Linked DNA regions of Homo sapiens. The protein of the gene in region 1 interacts with the protein of each later gene in a biochemical or structural test. Each region holds a gene or a part of one and is shown in the gene's direction. Other genes may lie near its edges.

Region 1 (7,038 bases):
GCCCCTGCCCACCCCGGGCTGCGTGTTCTCTCCGGCCATTCAGGGTCTGAGAGTGCAGAAGAGTTAGCCCCAGGGGAACACCTTCCTGCCCAGCTGATTTGTAAACAGCCTCGCTGGGGACACATGTTGGTGTTGGGAGTGGTGGAGGTTTCTGTGTGTGATGGAAACTTGGGGTAGGTGTTGGGGAAAAGAGGTGCTGAGAGTCTCAGCAGAGGGCAGAGTCCAGGAGTCCTGGAGTGCAGCTCTCAGCCCCTGCGCCGTGCCTAGAGGAGAGGCTGGCAAGCCCCTGTCCCATGGATGGGTGAATGGGTGAGTGACAGTGGCAACAAGCCCATGCCAGCAGGGAGGTCCCACTGCCATGAAGCAGCGTCCTCATCAACGTCACAGTGGGAACAAGAAAGCCAGTAGCTTTGGAATCCGAAGGAGCAATTTCAGCATAATTCGTCGGCCACCATGAAATTCCATTTTTAAAATGTCCTTTATTCATTTATCACAAAAAGGGTGGAAAATACAAACAGGAATAATGAAAATTGAAAATACTCATAGTGCCACCACCCAGAGAAATGCAGAATATTTTGGAACTGTGTCTCTCTTTTTTTCCCCATAAATTCACTTTTACCACGAAGCCAAGCTGCCCTGAGCAGCTGTTTGCATGTTTTCGTTGCTGTGTGGGACTCCATAGCGCAGGCACCGAAACCGCCAAAGCATCTTACACGTTGACGGCTACACAGGGAATCAAGATATTTTGGCTGAAATCCCTGGTTCTTTCCTGGGGTGACTCATATGTTTCTTAGCCAGTTTTCTTCCTTCTTTTGTGAATTACCTGCTCAGGGTGCCACACCCTTGAAACATCCTTGAATGGAGTATTTACCTTTTTGTTATTAATTTCTAAGATCTCTTTAGAGATGAAGATTACCATTTACCTTTTGCACTAGAGAGATAATAGCTATTTCCTCTATGCAATTTGTTAGTACAACATGTGCCATTTTTAGAGTCTGTCTTCTTGCTATTTTCCCCCTTAGCTTTTTTTTTTTTTTTCTTTTGAGACAGTTTCACTCTTGTTGCCCAGGCTGGAGTGCAGAGGTGAGATCTCAGCTCACTGCACCCTCTGCCTCCCGGGCTCAAGTGATTCTCCTGCCTCAGCCTCGCGAGTAGCTGGGATTACAGGCGCCCGCCACCAAGCCCAGCTAATTTATGTATTTTTAGTAGAGATGGGGTTTCACTATGTTGCTCAGGCTGGTCTCAAACTCCTGACCTCAGGTGATCCGCCTGCCTCAGCCTCCCAAAGTGCTGGGATTACAGGCATGAGCCACCATGCCCGGCCTCCCCTTAGCTTTTATGCTGAGGTTTCCTTACTCTTAGATACCTATTCTTCTATTTCCTTTATTGTTTTATTCCCTAAAACTGAAGTCCTACACATTTGTGGCCATTCTTTTATGTCCACAGCAAGAGTGTCCGGGGCCTCGGCCTCACGTCGCCACCCAGGAACAGACAGTCTCCTTCATGTTAGATGGAGGAGTGGTGTCCCCTTGTCTAAAATGCTGTAAATATCATTTGATTTCCCTTTGACTTCAGGTATTTAGCAGAGTACTTTAGCATTCCTTATTAATATGTGTGTGTCGGGGGGGTGGGGTGTCTCATTTTATTTCATTTGGCCAGAAATTGTGGCCTTTAAAATTTGTGCTATCAGGCCGGGCGCAGTGGCTCACGCCTGTAATCCCAGCACTTTGGGAGGCCGAGGCAGGCGGATCACGAGGTCAGGAGTTCGAGACCAGCCTGGCCAATATGGTGAAACTCCATCTCTACTAAAAATACAAAAATTAGCTGGGCCTAGTGGTGTGCACCTATAGTCCCAGCTACTCAGGAGGCTGAGGCAGAAGAATTTCTTGAACATGGGAGGCGGAGGTTGCAGTGAGCCGAGATCTAGCCATTGCACTCCAGCCTGGATGACAGAGTGAGACTCCATCTCAAAAAAACAAACAAACAAACAAAACTGTGCTATCAAACTTCACAGATAGTCAAACCAACAGTAGGAACACGTCTCCCTGACCCTTGGGAAAATACGCTTTTGCAGGGTCGCAGGTTCAGAGGCGACATGGGCTGGGTTTTCCTGCATCCTCTCTGCTCCGACTTGTTCCTATTTGATCTGACCTGTTTTTGTCCCTGGATTTCCTGGAGCCTCTGTGATCCAAGGACAGTGTTCCAGTCCCCACCTGACGGCACTTCTCTCCAGTTCTTTATCACATTCCTACAAAGCAGAAATGAGTCCATCTTGATGCTCTGGCTTTTGGCTTAAAAGGTGGATGCCTAGTTTATAATCATCCCTTGAGCCTTCAGTTCCCAGCGCAGGGGTTGGCTCCCATGTCCTCTTCCTTCCAACCTTGTCCCCTGGCGGCATCGTCCATCACTTCCCGCGCACCTCCGAGTCACTTTGATGCGAGTGCCTCTCCTCTAGGACAGCGCAAGGTGGGTTTCAGCACAGGCAGGAGGAAGCTCTGATGCAAAGTTCCAATGGGTCTGCGGGGCCTCTGGTTCCTCAAGCAGTCTCGTCTTAGGGTTTTACGGGGTTGCAAAAAGGAAGCCTGAGACTGGGCACGGTGGCTCACGCCTGTAATCCCAGCACTTTGGGAGGCCGAGGTGGGCGGATCATGAGGTCAGGAGATCGAGACCATCCTGATCAACACGATGAAACCTCGTCTCTACTAAAAACACAAAAAAATTAGCTGGGCGTGGTCGTGGGAGCCTGTAGTCCCAGCTACTCAGGAAGCTGAGGCAGGAGAATGGCATGAACCTGGGAGGCGGAGCTTGCAGTGAGCTGAGATCGCGCCACTGCACTCCAGGCCGGTGACAGCGCAACTCCGTCTCAAAAAAATAAAAAGGAAGCCTGACCCCGCTGGATTCCTCTCCCAGCATAGGCTCTGCCCTCTCTCTGCTGTCTTGCTTAAAGTTTCCTTTCTTTTTCTTTTCTTTTTTTTTTGAGACAGGGCCTCGTTCTGTCAACTAGGCTGGAGTTCAGCAGTGCCATTAGGGTTCACTGCAGTCTCTCCCTCCTGGGCGCGAGTGATCCTCCTGCCTCAGCCTCCTGAGTAACTGGGACTAGAGATGCATGCCACCATGTCTGGCTAATTTATTTTCTATTTTTATTTTTTGTAGAGGTAGGAGTCTCACTGTGTTGCCCAGGCTGCTCTCAAACTCCTGGCCTCAAGTGATTCTCCTGCCTTGGCCTCTCAAAACACTGGGATTGCAGGCGTCAGCCACCAGGCTGGCCTCTTCCTTTCCTGTGTTTGCTCCTGTTCTCCTGTCCTCGACTTCTGTGAAAGGGTGTGTGTGATTTGGCCCGGATCTGCTGCAGGTCTCTTCTGACGCCGCTTTCGTGTCTCAGAGCCTGAATGTTCAGAGCTTTGCTCACCGTGAAGTGTGGTTCTTGTTAGCTGTGTCCATTTGGTGCCCGGGAGGGAAGGGCGCCCGGCCCCTGAGGGGTTCTCCGGGGAAGGATGACCTCGTCCCCCTGGTCCTGCCCCCTCAGCCCCCTGCTTCCCCTGTGCAGGGGACTTGGTGACAGGTACCACTTCCTGCAGCTGGGCTGGGGTTGCACCAGCACTTCCTTCTCGGGCAGGGTTGAGGTCAAGGGCGACTCTGATGCAAGGTTCTGAGAGGCCTGTGGGGCTGTGGATTCCTAAGCAGCCTCAGCTTTGGGTTTTGCACCTTAGGTCTTGGTAAGGGGACCCGCCCGCCCTTAGATGGGGGATGTCCAGAGCTGGAGGATGAGGAGGGCACCCGCCCCTGGTGTGGGGCAGCAGGGAGGGCCTTGGAGAATGAGGAGGGCACCTGCCCCCAGTGTGGGGCAGCAGGGAGGGCCTCAGGGTGATCAGGCTCCAGGCCAGAGCTCTGGGGCCAGCTCAGGGGCTGGGGTGGGGGGTGTCTGTGCTCTTCCTCCCCTCCTGCCCTGCAGCTCTGCCGGCTTAGCCTCAGGGCACCAGAGGTGACAGTGGCCAGGCACCTGTTTGCCCGAATGCTGCCCTACATCTGTGCCTTACCCATTCCCATCCCCCAGGGAGCTGGCACAGGCCCTTCGACCACCTCCAGGCACATGGAGGAAACTGAGGCAGATAGGCCTGATGGGGTCTTGGTCTCTCAGGCCTCAGGTGAGGCCCTGGACCTCCGTGGGCCATCCTGGCTGCTGGGCAGAGGGGCTGCCCTGCCCTGTTCTCCCACAGAAGGGAGGCTGGCTGCCAGGCTCAGTGCACTGCCTTACCTCCTGGAGCGGACCTTCATCCCCAGCTGTTTGTCTGGGCTCAGCCACTGGCATTGGGGGGTGGGGCAGGGCCTGGCTTCTCTTGTGCCCCCAGCTCCAAGCCCCCCAGGGCTGCTCATGGAGGAGCAACAGTGGGGAGAAGGTGGCTCCCCACCAGCCCCCTTCCTGTGGTCAAGGTTGGGGTGCCGTGGTCTCTGAGCCAATCCTGCTGGAATCAAGGTGCACCCCCTCTCCCTGTGGGCAGGTGGGAGTGCCCGGGGTAACTGGGCACCAGGTCCATATCTTGCTGCTGCTGGGGCCCTCAGTTTCCCCATTTGAGGGTATGAAGTGTTTGCATGCCACTGGTCACGACTGTGTTAGGGGCGGAGACCTCATGTCTGCGGCCCCAGGGAGAGCGTGGAGCTGGGGTGTGAGTCCTTACCAGCCTGGCTGGGGCTGCCAGGGGAGGTCTGCACCCCCTCCCCACTTGGCGCAGCTGCGACCTGGGGGAGTCCTGAAGCCGGCTGGACCCTGCACCCTGGGGGAGTCCTGAAGCCGGCTGGACCCTGCACCCTGGGGGAGTCCTGAAGCCGGCTGGACCCTGCACCCTGGGGGAGTCCTGAAGCCGGCTGGACCCTGCACCCTGGGGGAGTCCTGAAGCCGGCTGGACCCTGCACCCTGGGGGAGTCCTGAAGCCGGCTGGACCCTGCACCCTGGGGGAGTCCTGAAGCCGGCTGGACCCTGCACCCTGGGGGAGTCCTGAAGCCGGCTGGACCCTGCACCCTGGGGGAGTCCTGAAGCCGGCTGGACCCTGCACCCTGGGGGAGTCCTGAAGCCGGCTGGACCCTGCACCCTGGGGGAGTCCTGAAGCTGGCTGGACCCTGCACCCTGGGGTAGCTCCAGCACGCACAGGGCCTCCGATCAGCTGAGGGGCTGGTGGGCACTCGTGGCACCGAGGTCAGTCCAGGCGCAGGACTTTGAGGGGGCCCAGATGGAGAGCTGGAACTGGCCTCGGCCTGAACCACAACCCCCAACGATCAGAGATATGGGGGCTTTCAGACACAGGGTGGGCCCAATGTGAACCAAAACCACCTCCTCCAGGAAGTTACAGCAGGGTGCAGGTTCTGTTTTTGACCCCAGGACGGGAAGGATCAAGGGTTCCCTTTTGACATTTTTGTATTCTGATTATAATTTTGCTGGGAACCAGGGAATGAGGTCACTGCCAAAACAACAGGACCTTGGGGCTTGTTGGGGCGTCTAAGCTGTGGGATCCTCAGATGGGCCCCTGGTGGGTGTTCCGTTGGCCTCAGAGCCCCCAGCACAGGTGCAGGGCTTTCGGGGGATGGAGGGGAGCCAGGGCCTGTGGCTGAGGGCACCCGAGCCTCCCGGGCCACAGCACAGCACCCAGCGCTGTCTTCAAAGCCGGCAGGCCCTAGTTTGGGGCTCTGCTGGCTTGGGTCTGCCCACTGAACCTTGGGTGGCCCTGCCAGCACCACCCGAGGGAAGGGTGTGGGGCAGGAACGCCCCAGCAGCCTGGGAGGCCGTGACAGGAACTGGCATTTGCTGGAGGAGGTGTGTTGATCTTTGCTTCTGACAACAGCCCCAGGGTAACGGAAATGTCTTCCTGCCCACCATGACAGGAAGGCTCCTGGGTACCCCTTCTCAGTACCTCTCCACCTTCTTGGTGCCAGATAAAAGGGTCCCAGCCAGCTATAATGTTCTCAGGTCCTGGGAGGTCAGACCCAGGGGCCCACCCCACCTAGGAAGCCCTAAGACCCCCCAAGGAGCCGACCTAGGCCTGGTTTGGGCACCTCCCGGATGGAGGGAAGGGAACCCAGGGGTGGAACGGCCCTGCTGCCCGCTAGGAGGTGCTGCCGGCCTCCAGCACCAGGCTGAGGCCTGCTTCCGTCATTTTGCCTCTGGGGCCGAGGGCCTGTGAGTGACCACTGAGCCGCCCCTGGCTGTGGATGCGTGGGTTAAGGACGGGGTGGGTGTGTATCTGGAAACAAAAGGGCAGGACCCCGGCAACTGGTGGCTTGGGCAAGTCAGGTGACTTTTTTTCCCACCTGGCAGGGACTGCAGGGCTCCTGGGCAGGCCTAGCACACAGCTTGGCACCCGCGGGCATCAAGCCAGCTTTCTCTTCCTGGCACACAGCCTGGCACCCGCGGGCATCCAGCCAGCTTTCTCTTCCTGGCTATGTTTCTGCCACAGAGAGACAGGGCCAAGCCCAGCTCTCCTCCAAGCACAGGCTCTGCTCACGGAGGACCTGGGGCACACTGGGGCAGAGTGCACACACCGGGTGTGTGGGGTTCTGGTGTTTGTGTGCGTGTACATTTGCACGTGTGTATGGTGTGTGCGTGTGGTGTGTGTGTCTGTGTGGTGTGTATGTGTGTGTACGTGTGCATGTGTATATTTGTGTGTGGTGTGTAGTGTCTTGCGGGGAGTATGGTGTGGGTAAGGGGTGTATACATCTCTGTGTGTACATATGTGTGGTGTGATGCATGTATATGTGTGGTGTGTGCATGCACGTGGTGTGTACATGCAGTCAGGCACACATCTGTATGCACGTACACGTGCATGTGTGGTGTGTGTACACGTCTGCATGTGTGTGTGTGCCTGTGTTGTGTGCCTCTGCAGGGGCCCGCTGCAGCTGTCCTGGGTGCCTGGCTGAGCAGGTGTGCTGCCCGCACTGCTGAGCCCGGGATCCCTCCCTCCCTGGCTGTTGGCAGCTGGGCCCAGTGCAGCTGTGCTGGCCTGACCCTAACCCACCCCCTGCAGCAGGGACAGGGCCCCAGCTCCTTGT
Region 2 (3,590 bases), on another chromosome or scaffold:
CCACAAATTTTAAGATCAATCAAAAGACAAAAAAAATTATTCATCCTTTCTGGAATGTTAATATAGCATTTAAAATCTGGCAAACACCTCCCCCATTGTAAACTAAGATAACATTGCCAGATCTCAGTGTTTTTTTCTATCATCAATAGCATGATTTTTGCAGTAATACATTCATCTTAATATTTTCTGTTTAGATCTCACTGATGAAAAGGCCTCCAGGTTTTTCACCTTTCCGATCATCACGAATAGGGGAAATAAAAGAAGAAACAACTGTAAGTCCACCCCACACTTCCATGGCACCTGCACAAGATGAAGAGCGGGATTCAGGAAAAGAACAAGGGCATACTCGTAGACATGACTGGGGCCATGAAAAACAAAGAAAACATAATCTTGGCCATGGCCATAAACATGAACGTGACCAAGGGCATGGGCACCAAAGAGGACATGGCCTTGGCCATGGACACGAACAACAGCATGGTCTTGGTCATGGACATAAGTTCAAACTTGATGATGATCTTGAACACCAAGGGGGCCATGTCCTTGACCATGGACATAAGCATAAGCATGGTCATGGCCACGGAAAACATAAAAATAAAGGCAAAAAGAATGGAAAGCACAATGGTTGGAAAACAGAGCATTTGGCAAGCTCTTCTGAAGACAGTACTACACCTTCTGCACAGACACAAGAGAAGACAGAAGGGCCAACACCCATCCCTTCCCTAGCCAAGCCAGGTGTAACAGTTACCTTTTCTGACTTTCAGGACTCTGATCTCATTGCAACTATGATGCCTCCTATATCACCAGCTCCCATACAGAGTGATGACGATTGGATCCCTGATATCCAGATAGACCCAAATGGCCTTTCATTTAACCCAATATCAGATTTTCCAGACACGACCTCCCCAAAATGTCCTGGACGCCCCTGGAAGTCAGTTAGTGAAATTAATCCAACCACACAAATGAAAGAATCTTATTATTTCGATCTCACTGATGGCCTTTCTTAATTTAAGTGGCTATGGGTATTTCTTTCATACTTTATTAAAGTATCAATATCCCTCTCTCCATTGTCCAGATGAAAATATCCTGATATAATGCACCAAAAACCATGCAGCTTCGGAACAGTCTAAAGAGAAGTGGTGAGACTCCCAGTGGAGACACCATCAGTCTCCACGGACTGCATAAAATTGTGTGCCACAATTCTAACTCTTTTCTGAATCTTCTTCCCAAGTTTTCTAAACTAGCACAGTAAACAGACAAACTAATGTGCCGTATGGCCTGCTGCAATTGGCTTCTCTGATAACAAATATGTACCTTACAACATATGTCATGAATTTGCATACAAAGATTCTTGTCATTCTTAATAAACTGTGGCACTTGGTATTTGAATGTGTGTGAAAATAAGGGAAGTCAAGAGATTAAATGCTGAACTTATTAATGGAATAGAAATAATAAGGAGGCTGAGGCTGGAGAATTGCTTGAACCCGGGAGGCGGAGGTTGCAGTGAGCCGAGATCGTGCCACTGCGCTCCAGCCTGGGCATCAGAGCAAGATTCTGTCTCAGAAAAAAAGAAAAAAAAAGAAATAATAAGAAAAACTTCCAGATTTCAAAGTAACAAGAAAGAAGACAGGTTGGCCAAAGGGAGGAAAGGGGGGACATAAATTAATTGACTTTCTATTCCCAAAATGGGCTAGTTATATCAAATAAATACTCCCACTGCCCTTTCTGAGTGAGAGTGTTTCTCATAAGTCAAAAATTTCTGTTTACTCATTAACTACTCTTTGCAACAGGCTTTCATATAGAAGTATTCTGTTTATTTTTGCTGAGCCTAGATTGAGTAATTCTTAGTTTACAGAAGCTCCGAGCTTAATGATAAGGATGAAAAGCAGAGGGAGCAATATAGAAGCAGGCTTGCTAATAAAACTTTTTAAATAATTGACAAGGGAATATTATGGAATGTGATGCAAAGTTTGTTCCGAAATTTTATGAGGAAATTACTCTCTAGTCTCACTTTATAGTCTTTTTGCTATGACTTTGAAGACCATTGATTTTTGAGAAGCAGAATAATAGGATTGCCTTTCATTGCCCTATAGTGCAAAGAAGGTATATGCTTTATAACCAATGTTGTACTTTTGCCTAGAAAAACAAGATATGGCTTTAAATAGCTACAATCATCTTTGGATGTATATGTCACTGCTGCTTCAAGTTATTGGATGCATTTGAACCTCTGAGTTTGTCTTTCATTTTAAATATTGTCTGTTCTTTTAAATAAACAACCACAGATGTCAGGAAAAAGTCTTACCTTGTCAACTGGTTGCTCCACTTTTTAAAAATGATTGAATGATAACATCATATTAACTGCGTTTTACTATACTTACAGAGTCACCTAAGGTCCTGCGAGTACAAGGGTCGACCCCCAAAGGCAGGGGCAGAGCCAGCATCTGAGAGGGAGGTCTCTTGACCAATGGGCAGAATCTTCACTCCAGGCACATAGCCCCAACCACCTCTGCCAGCAACCTTGAGAGGAAGGACAAGAAGAAAGATGGGATAGAATTTAAATAGAGAAGAATGCCATTTTATCACTCTGCCTCTGGGTGAAATAAAGATCAGTCTTGATGTTCTAACTCTAATTCACAGTGGTCTCCTTTCAGCCCTACCCATTCTGCAGCAAATTCCAGCTGGTCAGAGAGTCAGTGCTGTGGCTCTGCCATGGAGGCTCATAACCCAACACTGGAACATTCCCTAGCCAAGGCAGAAGTCCTTAGGCGGGACTTCCTTACCACCACGGGTGCTAAAAGAAGAGTTAGTAGGTCATGCTTCTACCAGTAATCTAAGGACTCTCTCCTTCTCTTCTTCCTCTTTCTCCAGATTTCCAAGCCTTAGCTAAGAGTAATTTGGCTTGTTTAGTATTGTTTTCTTATGGTCCAGTTAATTACCAAAAATATTTTTAAAATCATCTCTGTTAATAGAATGTCTACCAACTTCTCACTATCAGAAAATACTCAACCTCCAAACAATTTGAAATTATCTTTCTGATCCAGGTAAAGAAGCAAATTGAAAATCAATAAAGTAAAAAGTGACGGAGATTTTAAATTTTCTGTAATAAAAACACTTATTGGGTTGGGCATGGTGGCTCACGCCTGTAATCCCAGCACTTTGGGAGGCCGAGGTGGGTGGATGACCTGGCGTCAGGAGTTCGAGACCAGCCTGGCCACATGGCGAAACTCCATGTCTAATAAAAATACAAAATTAGCCGGGCGTGGTGGCACGCACCTGTAATCCCAGCTACTCCAGAGGCTGAGGCAGGAGAATCACTTGAGCCTGAGAGGTGGAGGTTGCAGTGAGCTGAGATTGCACCACTGCATTCCAGGCTGGGTGACAAAATGAAATTCAGTCTCAAAAGAAAAAAAACATTTATCGAACACCTATTACAGCCATTTGCTATGCTAGATAATTTACTTTTGGCATATAACTTAATCCTCACAACCACTCTAAGGCCCCCATGAACATCATTCTTTTACAAGGAAACTGTAGTTCACAGTGCCCTGCCCAGGGTCATATAGTTAATAAGTGGCAGGGCTGGCATTCAGACT

Evidence for each region. The genes of interacting proteins can lie anywhere in the genome.
Region 2: the proteins of ITGB2 (region 1) and KNG1 form a complex in vitro, tested with the Homo sapiens proteins (one study listed by BioGRID).

The regions. Positions count from the first base shown.
Region 1 is NC_000021.9:44,910,872-44,917,909, reverse strand, and holds part of ITGB2 (integrin beta-2 isoform 1 precursor), read left to right. Parts: intron 1-7,038.
Region 2 is NC_000003.12:186,741,328-186,744,917, forward strand, and holds the end of KNG1 (kininogen-1 isoform 1 precursor), read left to right. Parts: intron 1-194; coding exon 195-1,004; 3' UTR 1,005-2,377; coding exon of another isoform or gene 2,378-2,458; 3' UTR 2,459-3,083; downstream 3,084-3,590. UniProt on the Homo sapiens protein: Kininogens are inhibitors of thiol proteases.